Regions from separate parts of the Homo sapiens genome. Here region 1 is linked to region 2. Evidence: fine-mapped expression QTL. Tissue or cell type: whole blood. Region 2 holds a variant in brackets; the other region holds the start of a gene. All regions are shown on one strand. Distances are from middle to middle.

What was found. PIP is the estimated chance that this variant, and not a neighbour inherited with it, causes the effect.
Region 1: SDC4 starts here. The variant in region 2 is fine-mapped to the expression of SDC4 in whole blood (INTERVAL, PIP above 0.99). The same link has a PIP of 0.9 or more in testis.

What each region holds. Positions count from the first base shown.
Region 1 is chr20:45,347,470-45,350,068 of GRCh38, reverse strand. It overlaps SDC4 (syndecan 4), which reads left to right and starts at 1,645. Exons shown (of 5, transcript NM_002999.4): 1 at 1,645-1,744. The coding sequence starts at 1,685.
Region 2 is chr20:45,324,427-45,327,025 of GRCh38, reverse strand. It overlaps SDC4 (syndecan 4), which reads left to right. Exons shown (of 5, transcript NM_002999.4): 5 at 1-1,738. Among named protein-coding and RNA genes, the nearest start is that of MATN4, 17 kb to the right of the region's middle. The variant C/G (reference allele first, on the strand shown) is at 1,608.

The DNA of each region.
Region 1 (2,599 bases), 23 kb before region 2:
GAATTTTACAGTCTCCATATAGCACCCCCCTCCACTTCTTCCCTCAACCTGCTCCCACCAATGCACTGTTAGGAGGATGAAGGGTAAGGAGGACACACAACTTTCTCTTATAAAGGGTGGAAGCTTACCCTAAGAATGGAAATAAACTTGCAGACCAGTTCTCAGAGAGATCAAACTTTTGAAAAAGTTCAAAATCTGGTAGATGAAGCCCTTAGAACAGACGTCAGCCACTCTGAGACCAGCGTCAGAGTGGTCTCAGAGTGGCTGAGGCCCACCGCCTATTTTTGTTCAGCCCACTGCTAAGAATGGTTTTTGCATTTTTATTTTTTATTTTTTTGAGACGGAGTTTTGCTCTGTTGCCCAGGCTGGAGTGCAGTGGGGAGATCTCAGTTCACTGCAACCTCCGCCCCTCGGGTTCAAACGATTCTCCTGCCTCAGCCTCCAGAGCAGTTGGGATTACAGGCGCAGGCAACCATGCCTGGATAATTTTTGTATTTTGTAGAGACGGGGTTTCAGCATGTTGGCCAGGCTGGTCTCAAACTCCTGAGCTCAAGTGATCCGCCGCCTCAGCCTCCCAAAGTGCTGGGATTACAGGCATGACTCACTGCATCCGGCCTGCATTTTTATTATAAAATGTCATTTATTTATTTATTTATTTATTTATTTATTTATTTATTTATTTTTGAGACAGGGTCTCACTCGGTCACCCAGGCTGGAGTGCAGTGAGCGATCATGGCTCACTGCAACTTTCACCTCTCTGGCTCAAGCAGTCCTCCCACCTCAGCCTCCAGAGTAGCTGGGCCACAGGGGTGCACCACAATGCCTGGTTAATTTCTTTAAAAACTTTTTGTAGAGATGGGGGTCTCATTATGGTTGCCCAGGCTGGTCTCCAATTCCTGGGCTCAAGGGATCCTCCTATTCCTCGGCCTCCCAAAGTGCTGGGATTACAGGCGTGAGCCATAGAGCCCAGCCGATTTTTGCATGTTTAAATGGTTGGGAATAAAGTCAAAAGAATAATAATATTTCGTGACACATGAAAATTATATTAAATTCAAATGTCGGTGTCTATAAATAATGTTTTATTAGGACCTAGCTGCCCTCATTCCTTTAGTATTTATGGCTGCTTTTGAGCTACGACGCTCGAGTTTGAATAGTTGCCACAGGGATCGTATGGCCCGCAAAACCTAAAATATTTAGCCCTTTACAGAATAGTTTGCTGTCCCCTGTCTTAACACGGTTCACATCCCATTTGGGAAGTTCTGTGTCTTCAGAGGGGAGCACACCCGGTATGAAGGCTGGTCTAAACTCAACACCCTAGGGAAGTCCTTCCCGTCCCTGGGCCTTAGTTTCCCCAACTATAAAATGGGGTTAGCCGCAGTGATCTCTGGGGACCTGCCTGGCAGTGGGTCAAATAAATAAAGGGAGTTGGAGCTCCCGGAGGGTAGGACTAGGGGTTGAGTAGGAGCCGGCGGGCTCGGGCAGGGCGGGTCCCTTGGGGTTTCCAACTCCGCGGGCGGGCGCAGTGCCCCGCAGGCCTCGCTTCCACTGGGGAATTCCGGGCGGGGTGCGGGCGGCGGGGCGGGGGCGGGCCGGGGCGGGGCCGGTAGGCCGCCTATAAGATGGGTGGCGCGCCCGCCCGGGGCCACTCGCCGCAGCCTGCGCGCCTTCTCCAGTCCGCGGTGCCATGGCCCCCGCCCGTCTGTTCGCGCTGCTGCTGTTCTTCGTAGGCGGAGTCGCCGAGTCGGTGGGTGCTTGGAGGTTCCCGGGCTGGGGGCGAAGCGGGGGCGCAGGCCGGTGCCTCCTTTGTTCGTCGGAGCGTGGGATGGGGGGGGGCAGATCGGGGGTACGCTACCCCCAACCGGACACCGAGGCCCGGGAAACTTTGTTGGAAACTTTGCTCCGGGGTCACGGGCCAGCCTCCGGGATGGCTTCACGCGCCGTGCGCCCCTCGCCTGTTGCTCTTCCCGCCTCCCCGGGCCTCAGCCCCGCCGCGGGCTACGGGCTCGTTAGTGACTAAGCCGGTGTCAACTCTTCAACTCCCACACCCTCGTCCCTTCCCTGGTGACCCTGGGGCAGGCTTGGAGCGCTGAATCCCCTCCTCGCTCTCGGGGCGCCCAGAGCAGACAGCTTTAGGATCCGAGATGGCCCTGGGGGTCGGGGGGCTGCGTGTACTCGGAAGGGGGAGGGTTTTAGGGTTGTGCGAGGCCCTCTTTCACACACCAAGGAGAACTGAGCCCTAACCTCAGTTCTGGCCCCAGCTCTGTCATTGACTTGTGACTTAGGGCAAAGTCCTGCCCTTCTGAATCTCTTCCCAATACTGCACCAAGGGTCTGAGGGAATGGGGCAAGAGGGGACACTGCGTTAGGGTTTCTAGAAAGTTGGGGACTCTGCTCTTTTCGAGGACAGAGGAGAGGAATGGTTTAGACTCAACACTTAGCCAGGAGCTGAGCCTCTGCTTTCTGCAAGAAGTGTGTTCATTTTTTCTCAATTGCAGATAAGAAAATTGAAGCATCCACCTTGAGTGAGGTGAAGGGGGTAGGGGGGAGAGAAGGCCTCAATCAGCCCAGGGAAACCTTTCCTTCTCACTGTCCACTGGCCT
Region 2 (2,599 bases):
GCAAGACTGGGATTGGATCACTTCTTAAACTTCCAGTTAAGAATCTAGGTCCGCCCTCAAGCCCATACTGACCATGCCTCATCCAGAGCTCCTCTGAAGCCAGGGGGCTAACGGATGTTGTGTGGAGTCCTGGCTGGAGGTCCTCCCCCAGTGGCCTTCCTCCCTTCCTTTCACAGCCGGTCTCTCTGCCAGGAAATGGGGGAAGGAACTAGAACCACCTGCACCTTGAGATGTTTCTGTAAATGGGTACTTGTGATCACACTACGGGAATCTCTGTGGTATATACCTGGGGCCATTCTAGGCTCTTTCAAGTGACTTTTGGAAATCAACCTTTTTTATTTGGGGGGGAGGATGGGGAAAAGAGCTGAGAGTTTATGCTGAAATGGATTTATAGAATATTTGTAAATCTATTTTTAGTGTTTGTTCGTTTTTTTAACTGTTCATTCCTTTGTGCAGAGTGTATATCTCTGCCTGGGCAAGAGTGTGGAGGTGCCGAGGTGTCTTCATTCTCTCGCACATTTCCACAGCACCTGCTAAGTTTGTATTTAATGGTTTTTGTTTTTGTTTTTGTTTGTTTCTTGAAAATGAGAGAAGAGCCGGAGAGATGATTTTTATTAATTTTTTTTTTTTTTTTTTTTTTTTACTATTTATAGCTTTAGATAGGGCCTCCCTTCCCCTCTTCTTTCTTTGTTCTCTTTCATTAAACCCCTTCCCCAGTTTTTTTTTTATACTTTAAACCCCGCTCCTCATGGCCTTGGCCCTTTCTGAAGCTGCTTCCTCTTATAAAATAGCTTTTGCCGAAACATAGTTTTTTTTTAGCAGATCCCAAAATATAATGAAGGGGATGGTGGGATATTTGTGTCTGTGTTCTTATAATATATTATTATTCTTCCTTGGTTCTAGAAAAATAGATAAATATATTTTTTTCAGGAAATAGTGTGGTGTTTCCAGTTTGATGTTGCTGGGTGGTTGAGTGAGTGAATTTTCATGTGGCTGGGTGGGTTTTTGCCTTTTTCTCTTGCCCTGTTCCTGGTGCCTTCTGATGGGGCTGGAATAGTTGAGGTGGATGGTTCTACCCTTTCTGCCTTCTGTTTGGGACCCAGCTGGTGTTCTTTGGTTTGCTTTCTTCAGGCTCTAGGGCTGTGCTATCCAATACAGTAACCACATGCGGCTGTTTAAAGTTAAGCCAATTAAAATCACATAAGATTAAAAATTCCTTCCTCAGTTGCACTAACCACGTTTCTAGAGGCGTCACTGTATGTAGTTCATGGCTACTGTACTGACAGCGAGAGCATGTCCATCTGTTGGACAGCACTATTCTAGAGAACTAAACTGGCTTAACGAGTCACAGCCTCAGCTGTGCTGGGACGACCCTTGTCTCCCTGGGTAGGGGGGGGGGAATGGGGGAGGGCTGATGAGGCCCCAGCTGGGGCCTGTTGTCTGGGACCCTCCCTCTCCTGAGAGGGGAGGCCTGGTGGCTTAGCCTGGGCAGGTCGTGTCTCCTCCTGACCCCAGTGGCTGCGGTGAGGGGAACCACCCTCCCTTGCTGCACCAGTGGCCATTAGCTCCCGTCACCACTGCAACCCAGGGTCCCAGCTGGCTGGGTC[C/G]TCTTCTGCCCCCAGTGCCCTTCCCCTTGGGCTGTGTTGGAGTGAGCACCTCCTCTGTAGGCACCTCTCACACTGTTGTCTGTTACTGATTTTTTTTGATAAAAAGATAATAAAACCTGGTACTTTCTAAACTGCTTGCCTCTGTCATTTTCGTTCATAACAAGTCATCCTTTTTGGGCTCTGTATCCCCTTGATCTCAGTGGAGCATGAAGAAACTCCCCGGACCAAATCCCCTACGGGGTGCCAGACATGCCGGGGGTGGGCAGAGGGTGGGGGCAGAGAGGTAAGAAGGCAGGAAGGGGCCTAGAGAAGAGGGAAGACTTCAGAACATGCACCCTGATGGCCTATGCAGCATATCACCCCTACTTCAAGGTTTTGTTTAGGTGGCACTGTGTTTAAATAGCAAACACAAAAATCTTTGCGTCAGTTGCCATCCATAGAAATCAGGAGGTTTCTCATAAAAATCCAGATTTCTCACTTTTCTTGGGAAAAAGAAATAAAAAAAATTGGCAACTGTCAGCCTGCATGGCAACAAGAGAGCTGCTGAGCGGCAGGCACCCATCTAGATGTGGGCTCTCCGCACCACTGTCTCCGCCTGCTTCACTCAGGCCACTGCTGCAGCCAGGCTGGCTGGCAGTCTCCGGAAATAGCATGGGCCATCTTTCTTGACCACTATAACAACCCTGTGAGGTGGGTAAGATCCTTGTTACCAAGAGGGCAACCTGCCCCTAGTGTGTCTGGAGAGTCGAACCTTAATTTCAGGTCCTTGGACATTGGTGATCTTCCTTTGGCACCATGTTGCCCAGTACTTTGCTGGGGTTGGGGAAAGGACGCAAACAGGAATTGGTGGTAGTTGGAGCAAACCCTCCCATACACACCATGTGGCCAGGAACCCATTCTTAGGGCTTTATACCAGATCCCATTTAATTGTCAGATCTCCACAGAGTAGGTGCTATTAGTAACCCCATTTGACAGATAGGGAAACTGCATCT